2 linked regions of the Homo sapiens genome follow. The protein of the gene in region 2 interacts with the protein of the main gene of each other region in a pairwise test. Each region holds a gene or a part of one and is shown on either strand. Other genes may lie near its edges.

Region 1 (10,854 bases), on a different chromosome or scaffold from region 2:
CTGGCAATAAAGCTGTATTGGGTAGGTCAGTTACAGAATGTCTTCAGGCAGAAGCTGTTCCTTTGGTTCACTCACTCATTTATTCATTTAACAAGTATTTTAAGTACCTGCCTTGTGCATGGCAGGGTTCTTGGTGCTGTGAGGAGGACAAAGATAAACTGAACCTTGGTTTGCCCTCAAGGAGCTTGGCTGGCTGAGAGTTGAGAGAATCCCAACCAAGTAAAAGGGTATGGGTCCTCAAGAGAAGATCGCAGGAAGAGCTGGGGGGCTCAGGATGGAGTGGAATTAATCTTTCACAACAGCTACTTAGCTTTAGGAGAAAATTAGGTCTAGAAGTTACACCTGATAATGAAAGAACTCTCATAAGCTTCAGATCTGTATGTAAGGGTGTTTTCCGGACTGTGTGTTGGGCGTCTCAGACTGAATACATTCTAAACAGGTCCCATCATTCCTAGCCACCTCCCTCTTCCCACCGCCACACACCTGCTGCTGTTCCCATGTTCTCTGTCTCAGGGAATAGCATGAGGCTCCCCGACTCCCTACTTCTCCTAATGGTCTAAGCCAGATACCTAGGGGTGAGTCATCTCTGATTCACCCCTGACTTTCCCTTCCCGCCTCAAATTCAATTCTGATTCTACCTCCTGAACTTCTGAAATCTGTCCACCTTCTCTCCATTCTCATTGCCATTTCTCTAGATAAGCCTACCGTTATCAACTAAGCTCTTGCTTACTTTACTGCAACAGCTTCCCGATTTATCTCCCTGCCTCACTTCACAACCCATCTTCACTACTGCAACTGGGAAGTGCTTGCTGGAATTTAAATCTGATTGTGAGGCTCCCTTCAGTGATCCTTCATTGCCCTTAGGACGGAACCAGACTCCCTTTACGGGGCTTATGTGGGTGTACAGCCCTGTCTTTCTCACCAGCACCCTCTCTTTTCACAAGCCCCTTGCACTTTTCATTTTGAGAACATGCTTTCTTGTGCCATTAGGGCCTTGCACATGCGCTCCCTTCTGCCAGGAACACCCTTCCCTGCACCCTCTTCACTTGACTTATTCATGCTCCCCTGTAGGGTAAATGCACCTGACAGCAATAATTAAAGCATACCCTTAGAATGACCCTGTGTGGCAGATGAACCTGAATGTGTTTTCTGAACTAGGGAACCCAGGCCTGCCCAACCCAGAGATTTATTTCTTGTCTATGAAGAACATCTGAGCCCCTGCCCCACCTGTCCCATAGAACAGGGGCCATACGGGGAATTGAGGCCTTGAATTTTGAGTTAAATCAAGTTGCCAGGTAGAGGTCATTGAGGGGAGGGTGTTAAGTGAAAATGCTGCATAAATTGCATGATGTTTGCAAGCGGTTGTTTTCCTGCCCAGCTCACCACCACTGGACTCCCTCCTCTGTTTGTAAGCCCCTAATGGGTCTCTTTTGGCCTCTTGAACCTGTTGCCTTCCTTATTGAGGTTAATAGGGGTTTGGCACAACATCTCTCCAAGGTCCCAGCTGGGACCCTGTTTGATCTGGGCATCCTTAGGCTCCCAGTCCTTGCTGGGTGCCACTCCTTGTTATGGTACCCACACCTCTCCTCTTAGGGCTCATTCACACATCTGCCTCCTACAGCTGTGTTGTACTATAGTTCCTGGAGGACCAAGGCCATGTCTTAGCACTTACCATTGCTTCCTGCTGCCTTGCCTAAAGAAAATGCTAAATAAATAGCTGTTAAGTCGAATTGACTACAAATATATGTTATAATACTATGGTATGATTCATTAACTAAATTACAAATTCACCCTACCTCAGTTTTCTCAGTGTGCTGAAATAGTAATAGCCTTACACATGTCAAGCTTAAAATAGGTGTAAGGGTGAATGAGAAGAGTAATCATTGGAGCAGCTAATATTTGTTGAGTGCTCAGTATGTGCAGGCACTGTTCTAAGTGCTTTACAGTATTAAATCATTTAATTCTCAGAACAATCCTATAAGGTAGATATTTTTGTTATCCCTATTTTAAAGATGGAGAAACTGAGTTATTGAGGTTCCACAGCTAGTAAGTGGTGGTATCAGGTTTGAAGATAAGCATACTTTATAGCATATGGTTAGCTCCTTTAGAAAGATAATAAGTAGGATCAAACATGAGAAGTTCATGGGGCTGAACATTGTAAGTTACCAGATGGAACACAGTGCCCTGTGGTCACAACTTTAAGCTATGAAGAGCATGTGATTGATCCAGAATTGAAAACTCTGAAGAACATGTTTGGTTTACATGTTCGCTTTTTTTCAGCAGCTAACTCAGTTATCAGAGGTGATGTTGCATAGAGGTTAGGACTGAGACTTCCCTAAGTCAGAGATCTTTGTTTTGCTGTATAACCTTCAGGCATTGCTTGCATTCTCTGTGTGCCACTTTCCTCATCTGGAAAATGAGGATAATCATGACAGTACATACCATAGGGTGTGGTCATGATTACATGAGTTGATACACATAAGGCACCTAGAATGCCTTAGAATGGCACCTAGCACATAGTAATTGCTCAAAAACATTATAACCTCTTTATTATTATTATTTGTTTAGCCATCATTCAGTCAGCAAATGGTTTTTGGACCCAGGTTCTCCCTACATGCTACATCCTACTGTACCACTTCTCGGCCACAGATGAGCTCTCCTGTTTTAATTCTCCTTCCTGCAGATGATGAGCATTTTTCAGTGTTGCCTCCTTTTTGGTGCTGTCATCTCCTGTGCCTCAGCTTCCCTCCCCCATACCCTTCCTCATAGTAAGTTCTAGTGGATGACTCTGAGATCAGCTCAAAATTCTTCTTCTTTTTTTTTTTTTTTTTTTTTGAGACGCCCAGGCTGGAGTGCAGTGGCACGATCACAGTTGATTGCAACCTCTGCCTCGCAGGTTCAAGGGATTTTCCGGTCTCAGCCTCCTGAGTAGCTGGGATTACAGACATGCACCACCATGCCACGTCCGGGTAATTTGTTGTATATTTAGTAGAGAAGGGGTTTCACCATGTTGACTGGGCTGGTCTCAAACTCCTGACCTGAAGTGATCCACCAGCCTCTGCCTTCCAAAGTGCTGGGATTACAGGCGTGAGCTACCTCGCCTGGCCCCTTTTTATGTTCTACATTAATTTATTACCAATTGATAATGGGAGATAAAAGGCCCATTAACCTAAATGATAAGCAATGAGAAAATTGTAAAAATATGCAAGGAATCTCACTTACCATTCCTCACATTTACAAAGATAATTACCTTCCCTGTGGAAGAAATATAGACGTGAGAAAGCTCAGAAATAAAGGCACCACTAGGGGTCTTAGAACTTAAAAAGCTGTAAAGAACTCCAGAACTCTTTTCATCTATTCTCCTAACTTGCAGGGAGAGTTGAGGGTGAGGGAGGGGCATGGTCTGAGGCCCAGTGGCCACATCTCTAGCCTGTGGCTGGCACGCTATCTACTGCATCTGAGAGAATTGTGGGCAGGGTTTCAGTGGAACTTCTCACCACTGGGTATGTTTCAGCTGCTGCTATGATGCACAGTAGGATGTCATTGTCATCCATTTAACTTCATGCTGGGGCTATATTGTATTCTTTAGTGATTTGCCATTGATTAAGTGTGGATGTCTCTGCTACCACAGAAGAGCTATCTTGCAAGGAAACTAATGACAAAGCCATTGTTTAAACTGAATTAGTCAATCTCCAAGAAGACATCCATCTGTAAAGAATGAGAGGACTAATATCTGTACAGACATGAAAGAATTATAAGATGGAATTGTGGAAGTTAAGGAATTTAGAGGAGGAAGAAGGCATTTGCTCCAGATCACTTTGATAGTACAGACTAGAGTCAAGGAAATTAGGAGGTAATTAATAAGGGTAGAAGTCAGGGGAGAAGGTTTAAAGGGAGGTGGCATACAGGGGATAGTCGGGCTTTTGGAGGTGGACAGGGAGGGAGGACATTTCAGGCATGGAAGTGAAAAGTGAAGATTGTAGTGTCACAGTTCAGTGAAGAGACCTGGCTGACCAGAGCAGAAGTTTTATTTGGGTAAGTGGAAAGAATTGAACAGCTGAGAGTATGGCAGATCTTGAAGACAGGCAGAGGAGAATCAGCTTGAGGTACCCCCCAGAGTGTGCTTAACAGTGATGAGGATGAAGGGGAAAGTAGAGGGTTGGGAGAGGTGAAGTTTGAACCTCTTTTTTCCCTTGAGACAGGGTGTCACTCTGTCATCCAGGCTGGAGTGCAGTGGCACAATCACGGCTCATTGCAACCTCAACCTCCAGGGCTCAAGCAATCCTCCCAACTCAGCATCCTGAGTAGCTGGGATCACACGTGCATGCCATCACACCCAGCTAATTTTTTGTATTTTTACTAGAGATGGGGTTTTGCCATGTTGATCAGGTTGGTCTCAAATTCCTGGGTTTAAGCCATCTACCTGCCTTGGTCTTCCCAAGTACTAGGATTACAGGCGTGAGCACCATGCCTGGCCGAACTTCCCTTTCTTTAGTAGACTAGAGAAATTAATTTCTGTAATTCTGTGGAATGTCTTTGTATTAGTCATTCTCACACTGCTCTAAATAACTACCTGAGACTCGGTAATTTATGAAGAAAAGAGGTTTAATCAACTCAACTTCCGCAGGCTGTACAGGAGGCGTGGCTGGAGAAGCCTCAGGAAACTTATAATCATGGTGGAAGGCAAAGGGGAAGCAAGCATGTCTTCACATGGCGACAGGAGGGGGAGAGCACGTGAAGGGGGAAGTGCTACACGCTTTCAAACATCCAGATCTTGTGAGAACTTTAGATCATGGAACAGCACTAGGGGGATGTTGCTAAACCATTAGCAGCCACCCCCGTGATCCAGTCACCTCCCACCAGGCCCCACCTCCAACACTCAGGATCACAATTCAACATGAAATTTGGGTGGGGACACACAGCCAAACCATATAAGCGTATCATTTTTAGATACATTCCCTCCCCAAAACTTTTTTATTTTGTATAATTTGTCCTTTCCCCCTTGCTTTAGAATTGCAACCTTGCCAATGGACCTGATCGGTTTTGGTTATGCAGCCCTCGTGACATTTGGAAGCATTTTTGGATATAAGCGGAGAGGTAAGCCTAACCCAAATTTTCATGAAAGGGAATTAGTGGGGGTTTGGAGGTTGTGCTAGGTCATGTGAGGCTCTGTAAGTAGGATGAGAAGCTAAAGATGCCTTAGAGGTGGCTGAAGACCAGCGTGTCTTGGAAGGGACTCATGAAAGGAAGAGGCTTCCGTGGGGCTGAGCATGACAGAGTGTTCCAACCTGGGGGTTCTGGGCCTCTCTTCCACCACAAAACTCTCACTTCACTTCATCATCAGTTGCATAGTTAATTGATTTAATCTCCCTCAGGACCACTGCTTATTATTAAATGAGGATTTTTTTTTTTTGCTTTACATAATCGTGGTACCAAAAAACTGAGTTATATTGATCCTGTGTGTTGTAATGAAAACATTGTTAAATATTCAGTTATCATATCCAAAGTTGTCTCTTCACCTTTGTCCAAAAGAGGGGGGAAAAAAACTCAGGTAATCAATTAAAGAGTTTTCATGGAGAAAAAGGAAAGGTCAAATTTTTTTATTTTACTTTTATTTTAGAATCATTTATAGTTATGATGTCTCCTAGTTATGTTTCATATATATACACAACCTTTAGTCATCTTTCTGACAAACTGTCTCTTACGTTTTAATGACATTTTTTAAATGAAGTTTTTTATTTCAAAGGGTATTGTATTTGTGGCAGTGGTTGACTTGAATTTGAGTGAAAAAGCCAGGTCTACATGGTTACCAGTTAGCTTCCTTCCTTAAAGGCTGCTAAGAAGTCAAAGACCAGAAGCACCGTATAGCTCTTGTAGCTGGGGGGCTGGCAGGTAGAATTGACCATCATCTACGATTCCTTAAAGCCTGTAATTCACCTTGGATTTTTGTTCGTTGTTTCTGTCTTAATGTATGTATTAGAGATGTGTATTTGAAGGAAAAAAAAAGATGATGGCACCAAAGTAAGACCTGTAAACCAAGTACTCAGAGGTTGATGTTTCACAATCTACTTTAGAAAGAACTCAGTTTAAAATGCTAAGATTGTTTTTGAAAAAAAATTTTCACTGTCAAAGACAATGTCTAAATAACTTCTATTACAGAACAGAAAAGAACATCTGGGCATTTTTGCCTGCCTTTATGAGAGGTGGAAAGAAAGTGGGGAGAGAGATATAGAGAGTGTGTGTATGTGTGTGTTTGTGTGTGTGTGTGTGTGTGTGTGTGTGTGTGTGTGTGTGTGGAAGGAATCATTTTATTCTAACTCACATCTCTTCATTGTTTACCAGCTGGTGGGAACAAATGAAATTACATTAGCTGTGAGGTCTCTGATTTCAAGGGCTTGTTGTCCACCTGCACAATATGGTTTCTTGGCCTCCTGCAAGAGCCCCCTACTAAGTGATCCTGGAAGCCCCCAAGGGTATTATGGGTTCACAAGGAAGCTCACTTTGTAGTATAATGTGGGTTAAAAGCATGGGCCACAGAATCAAGCATTCCTGCATTCCAGTCTTGACGCTGCCACTTACCAGCACTGATACTCAGGTGAGATGTTTCAACATCTGGGCCTCAGTTCCTCACCTGTAAATTAATCTGTTAGGATTAAATAAGATGATGCATGGTACACATTTCACATGGTGCCTGGCATAGAATAAAGTTTTAATCTTCTTGTTTTTTTCTGCTGCTACTGCCCTGCCAGTGGGAGGTCTGTGAGCCATGAGGCATAATACCTTTTTCTAGTTTTGTACTCTAGTTTTGTATTATGTTCTAAGCTGCCAGTGGCTCGAATGTCTTAGAATGTGTGTGTAAAGTGAGTTAACTCTCCTTTGACTTAGAGCTTCCCTAGGTATGAGTCCTATGTAGCTGGGCCAGGAGACCCTTCTACGGGACAGTTATTGAGAATAATCTTGGGTCGGTGAAAGATGTGATGTCGAAATGGTGTTTAGTGGGAGGACACAGATGTATCCAAATCCTAAACTAGACCAGCTGTGAGACACAAGTTGGGTTAAACGGAGAAGCTGATAGATTTTTATTTTGATGGGGGTACAGTGGGGAGAGAGGGCAGCCAGTGGCGGGACACAGGATGCTGAGCACTGTGCTTGCCTGGGCTCACCCCTCCTCCCAGGTAGGTCTCCAGAGAGGTGGATGACCAAGAAGATGCTATGATATGGAGGCTCTTCCTAGGCCAGGTAACATCGAGTGCCCAGAGTGAAAGAGGGCCAGATGGCATTCCCTGCCTTGTCCCACACTAGGGCTGAACCAGACCTTACACCTTCCTACTCCAGTTGAAGGGAAGGGCACTGACACAGCAATCCCTTCAGAGAGGTGCAGGTGTGCTTGCTGGGCAGGCTGCTATTTGGACGACCATAAGAGCACCTGCAGGGAAGCTCCCAGATGCATCTTTCAACTCTTTTTAAAACTCCTCTTCCAAGACTGCCCCACCCAGATCAGGCATCCCAGGAAGTGGGAAGGAAAAGAGCTTAGAGCTCCTTTTCTTGTAGCCCCCACTATGGGTCACTGAGCTTGTTCTCAGGATCTTTGCTTTCTTCCACCAGCGTGGTTTTCTTGTAAAACAGCCCACAGTCCTGCCACCTTCCTCAGGCAAGATGAAATGTCTCAAGAACCTTCCTGGTTCTTGCTGCTGGTGAGCCTGCCCCTGCTGTTTGCTGTCTGATCTCATCAAGACTGAAGTGTAGACACTGCCACTTTCTCCACATACTTAAGTGTGCGTGTTTGGTGGTGGTGGGGAGGGTGGGGTGGGGTGATCCTAACAGTAAATAAACCTTCAGGGTATACAGAAAGGAGCATCATAGAATCTCTAGGTGAGAAGACACCTTAATGGTCACCTAGTTGTGCATTTCAGAAAGTGTTTTAATCTCCTTAATATCCTTATCTGGTATCTTCTGCTTGAACATGACCCATAATAGGGGTGCATTAAATCAGTATTTATCAAGTGCTCCTATGTACCTGGCCCTGTGTCTCGCCCTGGGGAAACAGCAATCGCTCACAAGTGAGTAAGGGCAGACTGACATTCAATCCATGAACAGCATATAAACATATGATCAGGAATAGCGGAAGACTATGATGGGGGCCCTTGTTCAGAATGGTGGGTTGGAGAAGACAACACTTAAGCAGACATCCGAAGGTGAGCTACACTTGGCCAAGTGAACAGTGCAGAGACAAGCAGTCTGCACAAGGAACAGTATGTCTGAAAGCCATGACGAATAGAGTTTGGTATATTCAGAGAACTGAAAGAAGGCCAGGGTTCCCACAATATAGCAAACTGGATTATTTTTCCTAAGAGCTTTGGGAAGCACTAAGGTTTTTAATTAGGAGAGTGACCTGTCCAGATGTATGTTTTTAAAAGATCATCTTACTGTGTTTGAAGAATAGCTTTTGGGGGAAACAATGTGTAATTTAACATTATCTCCAACTGTAACATTCTAAGCCACTATATATTTATATATTTATATATATATATATATATGTATATATATGTGTATATATATATGTGTGTATATATATGTGTGTGTATATATATGTGTATATATATATATACATATATGTATATATATATATACACATATATATATGGCATGGATGATTAACCCCGTTTTACAACTGCTAAAACTTAGAGAGGCTAAGTGACTTAGCCAGAGTCCTTTAGCCAGCAAGTGAAAGAATTAGGAGTAGAACCTAGCGTGTTTGTCTTCTCATTCAGAATGCTGCTCTGGTGTGTGTGTGTGTGTTGTGTGTGTGTGTTTGTGTGTTGTATGTGTTGTGTTTGTGTGTTTGTGTGTGTGTGTGTATTGTGTGTGTATGCATGCATGTGCTGCAGTGGTTCTTAACCCTGGCTGCACATTTGAATTTCCAATGGATATTTTAAAAATGAGATGCTTTGACCCTACCCCCCAGGGATTTTAACCTAACAGATTCTAAATAGGGTGAGTTCCATGAAGCAAGGATTGTGTGTGTCTTATTCATAGTGTCACTGCCATGTAACCCACTGTCCAGTGCACAGAAAGTGCTTGGTGTTTGCCACAGTGCTCTGGGGTGGGTATGTGGGTTGGGGGCTGGGAGTGTACTGGTGGGGTGAGTGCATGGGATAGGGACTGGGTAGCTGGGGTCAGTATTCTGATTCTTCGTCTTTCTTGGTAGGGCCTCTATTAGTCCTTGAGTCCTGACATCTTGAGGCATGAAGGTTTGTTAATTATTCAGGATGGAACCATTGCTTGGTTTGTATAGCACTTCTGTCTTTACCTCTATAAACTAAAACTACCTTTGCATCTTAGTTTTTATCATCACAACCTCATTGCAAAAAGGAGGCAAAGAGAATAGGAAAAATTAAAAAAGAAGGGCTTAAGGAAGTTAAATAATTGTCCAAGATCATGTAATCAGTGTCCAAGCCACCAGAACAAGGCAGGTTTTCTTATTTCCCCAAGTGACATCTAACCCCACTGCACTGCTGTGCCCTCAGGGCTCCTCTGCCTTGCATTTGGGTTCAGCAGGAAACAGTCATCTCCTAGAAAGTATCCATGAAGAGGCCTATTCTTAATTTGGCTTTGTCCAGTTACTGTGCCCAAGTAGGAATACATTTGAAGGTGCCTGTATCATACTAGAAGTAATGGAATGAATTCCTTTCCTTTTGGGATTCTCTTTGTGATCTCATATTTTTTTCCCCTTCCAGGTGGTGTTCCGTCTTTGATTGCTGGTCTTTTTGTTGGATGTTTGGCCGGCTATGGAGCTTACCGTGTCTCCAATGACAAACGAGATGTAAAAGTGTCACTGTGTAAGTAAGGCATTTTTCCTGGTTACAGAGACTCAAACATTGGAGGTGATCTTTTTGATACCCTATGCTAGATATACTAGAACATATTTAGTCAAATGGCAAATGGCCATATGCATGTGTTGAGGCTGAATACAACACTTATTCCTTTCTAGAAAGACCTGATAAAAAATGATGGTACTGCTACCAGGCCTTCCAACTCAGAAGAATATTTCTATAAAAACTCGTTACTAGAAAAATTGAATTAGGAAAAGCAAGGAATTATTTTCAGATTTTCTGCTAACTCTCCTAAATGCATATTTAGCATAGTTTTTACATTGCTGTGGAAATAACTAAAAAAGAGACAGCCTTGCATTATTTCATTTAATTCACAAACATCTTTTAGATTCTGCACTGCCTTAAGACTTAACCTAAAAAAGCAAGGCTGACGCTTTTTTAGCTACTTCCCTTGTTAAGTTTAATGGGAGAATATCCACAGAAAAAATGGAAACCTGTGTGTTTAAAGTCACCAGGACACTTGACTTTCATCTCACTTGAAAGAGATACACAGTGAAGATTTAGAAAACCATACCAAGGACATTTTCTCTAGTTGATTTATTATTCAAAGTGCCTTGGTCGTGTATGGAAAAAAATATAAATGAAGACAAAATTGTTCTATATTTGAAGGAGAGTGAGAGATTTGGGGTTTTTTTTTTTTTTTAGTTATTTTTATAAGGGGCTAGGGATATTTTTAGTAATGAGGTTGTGTTAGATGTATCAGCCAGATGTAGTGATATTAGGATTTTTATTGATATGCATTTAAATAGTTCACAAGTATTTATTGTCAGTCATTTTATTTTTTATATCAATAAACAGTTTTTCTTTGAAAGCTGTTTTTAAATTGTGGCATTGATGTCCTAATCTCTTACATAAAACTACCTCTCCCTTCATAGATACAGCTCCAAAAAGGCTGACATGATGCTTCTGAATAAAATACTATTGCTTAGACTATTATTTAGTCTCCAGGCATCAAATTCTC
Region 2 (10,854 bases):
AAAAGTAGCCAATAGTATAAAATGTCTCTTTTTTTCATTAGGCAAAACAGGCGTACTGGGTTGCTTTTGCTAAGCTAAATGGTTTTACAGTTGATCCTCATTATCTGTGGATTCTGCATTTGTGAATTTGCCTATTCACCAACATGTATTTTTAGTCCCAAAACCAGTATTCGTGGTGCTCTGGAGGTCATCTGCAGACATCTACAGAGTGGTAAAAAATTTGAGTCCCAGGATGTGTATGTTCCCAGATGAGGTGGAACAAGGTGACACTCTGCTTTCTTCTTTCAGCTCTCTTATTGTAAATAAGTGTCCTTTTTCACAGTCTAGTTAGTGCCATGTTTTCACACTGTTGTGTTTTTTGTTGGTGATTTCACTTTAAAATGGCCCCAGACATAGTACTGAAGTGCTGCCTTGTGTTCAGAAGCCCAAGGAAGTTGTGATATGCCTTACAGAGGACAATACGTGTGTTAGACAAGCTTCCTTCGGGCATGAGTTACAGTGCTGTTGGTTGTAATGTTCATCAATCAATATATGTTAAATAAGGTATGGTTGTAATGTTCATCAAAACAATATATATTAAATAAGGTATCTTTAAACAGAAATACACACACACCAAGGTTGTGTGCTGATTGGTTGACAAAAACGTTGTGAGCAGAGGGTGCAGGAACCCAGCCCTCTATTTCCCCAGTGAGTTAGGGCTCAGTATTGGATAATTCGATATGCACAGTGATGTCACACAACATAACTGCTGTGAATAATGAAAATTGACTGTGGTTGCAAAGGTCCAAGATGCTTATTCAGTAAAGAAAACAGGATTATGTAAAGCATAGAACTCTGTTTTTCTGAGAAAGGGTCTCACTCTTTCACCCAGGCTGGAGTGCAGTGGTGCAGTCATGGCTCACTGAAGACTCACTCTCCCAAGCTCAAGTGATCTTCCCTCCTCAGTGTCCTGAGTAGCTGAGACTCAAGGAGCACACCACCACACCCAGCTAGCTTTTGTTTTTTTGTAGAGATGGAATCTTAGTATGTTGCCCAGGCTGATCTTGAACTCCTGGGCTCAAGTGATCCTCCTGCCTCAGCCTCCCAAAGTGGGGGATTACAGGTGTGATTCACTCCGCCAGGCCAAGCACAGGTTGAAAGACTTAAAGTTGATGGATATCAAGCCTAATACGGGCCTGATTTTCAAGCACAATTTTTCCTTAACTTGTTGTAGATGTTCATTTTATCATTAACATTTTTCTTTTGATTTTCCAAGAGAAGTATCTTCCAGAAAGCCTTTGCCAAGTTGACTTCCACACGCCTATCTGCTCCTCTAGTTTCCATCTACAGGACCCATTCTGTAGGGCAGCCATTTCCAGGAAGTCCTTGAAATCTCTGAATCCAGGGAAATTTGCTTTCCTGAAACAATACGCTTTATTCTTACTAACTGCTTTGTTTCCTCTAGAACTTAAATATTGATATCTTCTTAACACATTCTTCAGGGTTTCCATCTTTACCTTAGATTCTTAACTTAAGATGAATGCTCGATATACTCCAATTTTCACATTTTCATGGAAGAATCGTCCCACAGAGCTGATAGATAGGGTCTAATCTGGGGAAGCCTTGTAGAACCAGTGGCCTGAGAGGAATGTCATTAGATTTGCACTTTAGAAAAATGTTTGGTGGCAGAATATAAAGAGTGTGTGTGTGTGTGTGTGTGTGTGTGTGTGTGTGTGTACACACATGCATGCATGCACGCGGGTGCAGCATTGGGTAAGAAGTGGAGTGGGCGGGGTGGTGCCTGAAGTAATCAAAGTGAGAAACTATGAGGCTCAAATGAAGCAATGTCAATGGAGACAGGGGACAGAAACAAGGCAATGGGTGTGACCTATTTTAAAACAAGGATGTATGGATTAATGACATTAAATATAGCAAGTAAAGAGTTAAGACTGTGTTTTATCCTTCTACACAACTTCTGTAATCTATAAACATATGTCACGTTCATTATTTTTATCTGGAGGCCATAAACATGTCCTGAGCACACGAAGGTCTCCTACAGTGTAAAATTCAGCTGTTTTCCTCTCCATTTCCTTGAAGGTGATGCCCAGAGATGTTAATTTAGGCTGGGTCCAGCCATCAGGACACAATGCTCAGAAAATAAAGATGAGTACTTAGGGATCCCATTCTTGGCTTCAACATAATAACTCAGAAGTTACCTCGAAGCCACAGTGAATCTGAATTTTACAAAAACAATAATCTTTATGATTCTTGGGCACCACAACCTGAACCAAAAGGGCTGGCAGAAACATACCAAGCACCTAATCGGGTTGTGAAGTAGAACCTTCAGTATCTGCTTCAGTAAAGGGCTAATTTTTCTTTCCTCCCTTTGTTGCTGCCAAGATGAAGGTTTTCCTGACAACTCGGCAACTTCACCTGTCCTTTCAATGCCTCGGGGCACCTACAAAAGTTCAGGAATAAGTGTCCTCAGAGAGATCTTTCCAAAAAGGAAAGACATTCATTTATCAATTTTAAAAGTCTCCACTTTTGTCTTCACACTATAAATATACTCCCAAGAAAAGGATTTACCTAGAACATGTTGAAAAGAATGTGAAACTATTTCAGCTTTTACTGCGTGGCAATGGTCACACTAATGAGTTTGCTAATTTGTACGATGCACTGAGTAGCGGAAAGAAAATCAGATCCATAAACAGACAAATGGAGAGGCACACAGGGCAGGGACCAGCTCCTCACATCAGCAAATAGACACGCTGAGCGCTGAGATGTTTGGAACGCTTCAGGGAGGGTGCAGCAAGCTGGACATTGAAGGGGATGGATTGGCAACCTTCAACTTAAATTGTACGGTGCCAAACAGAAGGAAATAAGTAAAAAAACGTAGTTGATCCTGAAAATCTTGCCTTATAGTTCATAAATTCCGAATGGAGACCATCTGCTCTATCAGTAAACTGGTCTCTTTCTTCTCCTGAGTTGGTGCTGTCACCCAAAAGGGAAGGCTCCGGTTGAAATTCCTGATGAAATTCCCCTATTAGGAAAATATAGAGAGATGGAAAGCATGATTTCATGAACAGAAGAGCAAAACACAGCTGATCTTCAAATATGATCTAATCACTTCAAGTCTTCTGTGTTCCCTATGAAGAAGGTATATGAAAAACCCAAGTTTTCTCTTCCCTGCAGGGAGGAAAAGATAAAAATAAAATAACCCCAGAAAGCCCCAAACTGAGCTTAAAAAGTCAAGGCCTCTCTGGGCTCAGTTCCCTATGAGAAAAATTAGATTTTCTCTTACTTTTTTAAGGAATGGAGAAAAGAAAGTATAAAAGAGGCTTTTTTGCCCTCAGTAATATGTTACTATGTATTTCATATTTAAAATCCAACAAATATTGAGCAGCTACTAAATGGCAGGTATTATGCTAAACATTTTAGGGATTAAAAAATCAGCCAAATCTGACTCCTGTCCTTAAACAGCAAATAATCTCAAGGAAGAATGTGGGAGGGGAACTAGGCAAGAGCCCCAAATCATAACAGCAAAAGAAGTGTCTACAAGAAGGGCCACACAGAGGTGACAGCATGCCCAGATGTGGCACTTCCACCTAGAATGTGTTCCAGGGGAGGTGGGGGAGCAAAAGGAACACCCTGCAGAACTCTTCCAACTGTTCTGAAGATGAAAAAGAACCATACTGGGCCACCCTTTAAACACTCTGAGCCAATGCAATACCCACATCTAGACGAGAGGGGGAACACCCACTAGTAACAAATTACATAATTCTTTTATTTGAAAAATTTGCCTAAAATACTACCTCCTACAGTGTATAATATTACTAACTTTATATGAATTAATAAAGTGGCAGTTATATTTGTATATAAAGCATACAGCTATGTTTTTAGACAACATATGGTTCCCATGATAATCTCAGGTAAACAGAAATGCTAAACTTAAAAACCGAAGTGTAAGAAGTGAAAGCCAACACTAAGGTTTGAGTGAACTTAAACAGCTCTCCTATCATGAATAAGAGCAAATTCCAACTATTTATGAGAAGATCTGTATATTAATCCAGTTCTGCACTATTTATACACTGTGAAACAGTCTCTGCCACAAATGAGTAAAACTAAATGCTTGTATTTTCCTTAAAAGTCATGGGGAAACAGGGGCAATCAAAAAATCGCCTTAATGTTACCCAATGAGGGCTTCCAACCAAGATATGAAACGTATTACAAGGATCTTGAAGGCACACAAGACAGTGTTTAGTGGTCATTTGATGATTATTAAAGAGCCACAGAATTTTCAAGCTACACTGGACCTTTGGTATTACCTAATCTAATCATCTCATGTACAGGTGAGGGAATCAAGGTCACCTGACTGGGCCAAAGTCAAGTAGCTTCTTGAACACACACCTCAACTACATTTCCCACCCTCATGTGCAGTGCGATGTGGCCATGGGATGAAGTCTAGCTTATCAGTGATGGGCACTCCTTCCAGACCCAGTCCATAAAAACCTCCCACGAGCAAACCTCCACGCTCTTCTTCTGGCTTAAAACAGATGGACATGAAAGTTTTGGAAGGCCTGTGTTAAAGATGATGGAGTCATGGTATGAAAGGAGCTTGGGTCCTTAAATCAATACTCAGAGGGGAGTTGTCTGCCAATCACTAACTCCATTTGAACTTAATTTGGATTGTGTTGAGCCACAGAGATTTGGGAATCTATGTTACGGCAGCTAGAGTTTTCCTAACTAATATATCTATCATATCAATATTTTCTTTCCAAGAATGGATTTAAAGAATTAGCCGGGCATGGTGGCAGGTGCCTGTAATCCCAGCTACTCGGGAGGCTGAGGCAGGAGAACCCCTTGAACCCAGGAGGCGGAGGTTGCGGTGAGCCAAGATCACGCCACTGCACTCCATCCAGCCTGGGAGACAGAGCGAGACTCCATGTCAAAAAAAAAAAAAAAAAAAGAATTTTATCTAAGTCTTCAGAATGAGATTAGTTCTACTATGTACCGTAGGAAGTAGTACTACACACACATCAGCTATGTGACCAATGGCAAGTTACTTAAACTCTCTGAGTCTTGGTTTTCTCACCTATAAAATGGAGATGATTAGAGTATCCATCTTTGACTTTTAAATTTTAAATCAGCTCAACTTCCCAGAAGAACACAGTACCTGGTACATAGGACATACTCTAGAAAGATTATCACTGCCCTATCTGTGCACAGGTTATTTTAAACATAACATTTGAAACTGAAAAACAAGCACTTTCTCCACATTTTTATTCTCAGACCTTTAACGGGGCTAAGGCGATGGCACGAGTCCTCCTTGATGATCTGTTCTTCTTCCATGATGTTTGACATTGGCACATTGAGGCTAACAGTGTCTTCGTCAGAAGGCTAAAAAGATACAGTGCACTGTTTAACTCAAGAGAAGTGTTATCAATGTAGATAAGGAGAATGCTATGTAATAAAACAACATCCTGTGATTCTCACAAATATCATATTGAATATAAGTTGCCAGATACAAAGGTCAATTCCACTTATGTAAGTTCAAAAAATGCAAAACTAATCCATGGTATTTAAAATTAGGAAGAGGTTATTCTTGGGGTCGGGGTGGGGCTTTCTGGGGTGCTGGTAAAGTTCTGTTTCTTGAACTGGAAGCTGGTTATACGGGTGTGTTCACATTGTGAAAATTCATGGAGCTAACACTTATGGGCTTCTCTGTGTTTTCTTCTCTCTGTTTTAAGCTGAAATCTTGTCAGGTACTGATACACAGTTTGGATGTATGTCCCCTCCAAATCTCATGTTGAAATGTAATCCCCAATGCTGGAGGTGGGGCCTGGTGGAAAGTGTTTGGGTTTTGGGGGTGGATACCTCAAGAAGGGTCTATGCAGTTCTTGCTATGCGTTCATGTGAGATCTGGTTGTTTGAAAGTACATGGCATCAGCCAGGCGTGGTGGCTCACACCTGTAATCCCAGCACTTTGGGAGGCTGAGGCAGGTGGATCACAAGATCAAGAGATCGAGACCATCCTGGCCAACATGGTGAAACCCCATCTCTACTAAAAATACAAAAATTAGCTGGGCGTGGTGGCACACACCTATAGTCCTAGCTATAAGGGAGGCTGAGGCAGGAGAATCACTTGAACCCGGGAGGCAGAGGTTGCAGTGAGCCAAGATCGCGCCACTGCACTCCAGCCTGGCAAGAGAACAAGACTCCGTCTTAAAAAAACAAAAAAAAGTGCATGGCACCTCCTCCGTTGCTCTCCCCCAACCTCGTTGCTTTCTTGCTCTGGCTGTCACCATGTGACAGGAGGCACTCCCTTCACCTTCAACCCTGAGGCCCTTGCCAGTAGCAGTTGCTGGTCACATGCTTTGTGTACAGCCTGCAGAACTGTAAGCCAACTAAACCTCTTTTCTTTATAAATTATCGACCCTCGGGCATTTCTTTATAGCAACACAAGAATGAACTAATACGGGTGCCTGTTTTATTTCTCTGTTTTAGGCTGAGGAAGCTGCATCACATATATAAAAATGCTAAACAACTGTAGTAGTTAAAAAGAACTGCTCTGTGTGATTTTTGGAAGAAAGCTTCGGCTTTAATAATTGGATTAGTTCTCTCTGAGGGCTTCCTTTCCCACAGTAGCTGATGACGTTTATTCAGAAAACCTATGATTCTGAAATATGGAGCCTGGTTTATTTTCCTATGTCTCCATTTTACTGTTGCTACTTAGGAAATAGCTTTCCAAATCTCAAAAATCAGGAACCTCCACAAAACACATTTCAGGAGATTGTGGCTTGCTCCTAAGTTCTTGAGGTATGGTTTTCAGAGTCTGTCCTTGTTTACTTTTGGACATATGCACAGATTGTTTAGAAACTGGCAGAAATTAGGCATGCATTTCATTCATTCAACAAATATTCATAGAGCTCCACACTTTCCTGTTTATCTTGATAAAAAGATGTTTTTAATCTCTCAGTGACAAATGCTAAATCAATCAATGGCAGCAGCCAAAGAAAAAGAATGAGGTGTGATCCCTGAACCCCACAATGTCATCTAAATGGGAAGTAAGATCACCTGATCATAGATGGTAAAATCTTTGCCAAACCAAGTGAAAATAGGAAGCTATGTAAGATAATTTGGAACACTTATCACTCTAAAAAATAAATTTCTTGGAGGTGTACTTAGGAAAGGAGGCTGTAATATAAGACAAGGAAAGGCCAAAGGCAAGATGTGTGCATTTCATTCTGTTGAATATAATCTTTTCTGTATTCCCTTCTCTTTCTACCCACCTCTCATCTTAAAAATTTAGCAAAATTCCAAAGATATGCATCTAATTAAAAGGCACAGAATAAATCCTTGGGCTCCTTTTAGAATGATATTAGCATCCTACTTATGCTTAAGTGACAACAAAAGGATAATGAAGTTCTTTATGTAATGTTTTATTAATGAGTTTAATTAGCCTTAGAAGAGAGATAAAGCAGAGTCTGTTTAATTTAACAGAAAATATACTTAGGGTGAGTAATTTCTGAAACAATGGTCCATTTGCGAGGACTTAGGAGTTGAAGAGGATGAATTAAAATGCAACTAAAGCAATGTGTTTAGTATCCCCTCTCTCCCACTGAAGCACGGTAAACTATTCATGTGCCTTCCTATGGGTTATTTTCTTTTATTGACACTGGCCTTCTCTGCCTACTAACTCTTCTTCTTTTCAAAATGCTCTATATTAGAAGGATTTTTAAAGATAAAGAATCCCACTTTTTAATATACTGCTATATAGAGTATTTTGTGAAAAATAAATTCAAATACCTTAGCTACCTATTAAAATTCAACGACTTGAGGAGAATTGGAGAAAGGTTTTTTTCCTGGAGTCATACATAGAAAAAAATGTGAGTTTCTTTGATGGGGTGACTGGCCTATTAACTGCAATTTCACAGTATTATAATGTTAACTTAGTAACTACAGAAAGTAACTTCCCTCAAAAAAAGAAGAGCACCTGATACTTTTCCTACCACTCCTTTCTAGATCCCTGAGGCCAAGAAGCTCCATTTAATGATACATTAGTGTTAGATTTTGGGGACTCTAATAGACTACATGTGAGATAATAAATCAGTTATCAAAGCATGATTTATAACCACTATAGGAAGTTCTAATGTGTGAGGCCTGTTAGCTTGCAAGTAACCAAACTTGTATCCAATTAACTGAACAGAACAGAACAGAACACAATCTAAGAGTCTGAGGAAAACAAACATTGTTATAAAAACTATAGCTACTCATAAATGCATTTCCTGTGGATCAACTATTAAAATAAAATGTACAGTTGATTCCTTAACATTTACGCATATGTATAACAATGTTTTTCTAAATTACTCTATTACTGAAAAATAAGCGTATGTATAAAAGTGCTTCACGGGCACTTGCGTACTACTTAGCCATTTTGTAATATTTATTGAGCACTCAATAATATTTTAGATAATGTGTAGGAGAGGAGAAGATACAGACTCCACTCTTGAGGCATTTACAAAATATTAAAGATATTAAAGATGCAGAATAAGTAACAACAGCTAATATTTATATAACACTTCGAGGATTTCAAATCACATGAATATACAAATCACTTTTACGAATATCACATGAATATACAAATGAATCGATGCCCTTTAACAGAAAGGAGTTCAATGAACACTGGTAGATATGTCTAGAAGTACAGAAGGAAAAGAATCTGATCACTAACTTTACCTCGGTGGCAGATAATCGCTTATCTCCATTATCACTTCCAACTCCCGAATCAGAATCCTTCTTGCTGAGATAGATGCCATCAATATTGAATTCATTTAAAAAAGATTAAAATCACAAAGTTCACACCAAGAAACATCAATTTATATTCTAATAATAATTTTGCTACGCAAATTTTTATTATTACCATAAGGCAACAAATCAGTCTAGTATTAAAGAATATTAAGACATGGACCTAATGAAAATCAGACAGTAGCACAGTCTAAACACAGGATAAGATAAAATTCTTTGTGTTCGGGGTTTCATGGATTTATGCTCTAATCAAGTGGCTTGCTCTTAGATGTCAAGGTGTTTCTTAAAAATAGTTACCAATGTTCTTATTTTACTGCATCTAGCATATAAAAAATTAATAAACCACATAACTGCTTTTACCCCTTATGTTATGAAATGTGGTTACTTTCAATAATTCTGTAAATTTTTATCCAGGGATTAAGTACATAAAACAGTGTACATATTTTAAGCATTATATAAAAGTAACATTAGAGTAGTCCAAAATTTTAAATTTACTTATGTAGCAAAAAGTGAAGGAAAAGATTTCTGCAGTGAAGACTTCTTAAAAAGAACCTGCATTTCTATAACTGTGTTCAGTGTGAGAATGTTGTTTTTTGGAAGCTCAAGGCTTGATTTATGCCACAAGAAGCTCTAGGATGTGTGAAAGGGTTCTAACTTTTCCATTTGAAACAGGAAGTGGCGACAAAACTACACATACTGCATTTTTAAAAGACCAAAAATAAAGCCTTCATTTTTTTCTTAACATTGTTCTGGAGGCATATTCAACATTAATAATTGCTAAAAAGGCATGTCTGGGCTCAATATAGTTATTTTGATAAGTAAAAAATATTCACATTTGTATTCTAGATCTTATTTATAAGTATGCACATATTTACTCAGGAAGAACTGATTATTGATTAGGAGACAGATGATATTTGAGATATACCAAAATATTCTCAATAGCAGCAGTTTTTTCTTTCATATCCCAATAGTTTCTCAACTTCTTGTTTTAAATACAAATTAGGTGATTAAACCAAATTGTTCTGTTTTGCTTTGTTTTCTGCAGATACCATGGTGACTTAAAACAAACAGATTTTGAAGTCAGCTACCTGGAGGGCCTTGGCCTAGGCAAATTTTAAACTGGGGCTTTGAATGAGGGCATGACTCACCCATCTTCCACGTGCTGGTGTAAATGTGGCCTCTCCATGGTGTGGAGATAAAGGGAGTCAGCTGTCTTAATCTGGCATGCTTGTATGCTCAGATACTTAAATATGTGAACTTTGCCCTTTGTGCAAATCTACAAAGAAATTAATAGCAATCATATTCATTTTTCAATGACAAAACAAAATGTAAGTATCAAATCCTTACTCTGTATATTTCAATTTTCCCAGTTTCATTTTAAGTAACACCCTACCAATGTACACTAAATCCGTCCTTTCCAAAACATGTAAGAATTTTGGGAATCATTCCCTCCAAATTCTACTTTGAATAGAAAATCATGCTTAAGCAATTTCCCATTTTTTCTTGCATTAAACTATAAAACTCTAACAAAAATGTATTCAAGTATATATAGTATAAAAAATATAAACTCAGATGACCAGCCTGGTGAAATTCCAGTTACAAAAGATGAGAAAAGCACAATTATTTTCGAGCTGATAGAAAGCAATTCAGAGCCTAAAAATAATTGTAGATTTAAGAAGCTGTTAAATTATTTAAAAAGAAAATAAACTTCAAAATATTTACATGGTTAAGCATCTGAAAGCATAGCACTTCATTTTTCTCTCATGCAGTTTAACATTTGAGCTGGAGACTTGTCTCTAAATAATCAATAACCATGTTTTAAGGTGTTTAAATTCCATTTTCCAGCTAACATTCAAATAAGGAATATATGGTTGGGAGCAGTGGCTCACGCCTGTAATACCAGTATTTTGGGAGGCCAAGGCGGGCAGATCCCTGGGGGTCAGGAATTAGAGAGCAGCCTGGCCAACATGGTGAAATCTCGTCTCTACTAAAAATACAAAAACTATCCAGGTGTGGTGGCAGGCGCCTGTAGTCCCAGCTACTCAGGAGGCTGAGGCAGGAGAATCACTT

What was found.
Region 1: the proteins of LRCH1 (region 2) and TMEM14A interact in binary tests that used the Homo sapiens proteins (3 or more experiments, as listed by UniProt).

What each region holds. Positions count from the first base shown.
Region 1 is NC_000006.12:52,672,076-52,682,929, forward strand, and holds part of TMEM14A (transmembrane protein 14A), read left to right. Parts: intron 1-5,011; 5' UTR 5,012-5,027; coding exon 5,028-5,097; intron 5,098-9,737; coding exon 9,738-9,839; intron 9,840-10,854. UniProt on the Homo sapiens protein: Inhibits apoptosis via negative regulation of the mitochondrial outer membrane permeabilization involved in apoptotic signaling pathway.
Region 2 is NC_000013.11:46,687,058-46,697,911, reverse strand, and holds part of LRCH1 (leucine-rich repeat and calponin homology domain-containing protein 1), read right to left. Parts: intron 10,061-10,854; coding exon 9,933-10,060; intron 8,780-9,932; coding exon 8,716-8,779; intron 5,377-8,715; coding exon 5,271-5,376; intron 3,020-5,270; coding exon 2,895-3,019; intron 1-2,894. UniProt on the Homo sapiens protein: Acts as a negative regulator of GTPase CDC42 by sequestering CDC42-guanine exchange factor DOCK8. Probably by preventing CDC42 activation, negatively regulates CD4(+) T-cell migration.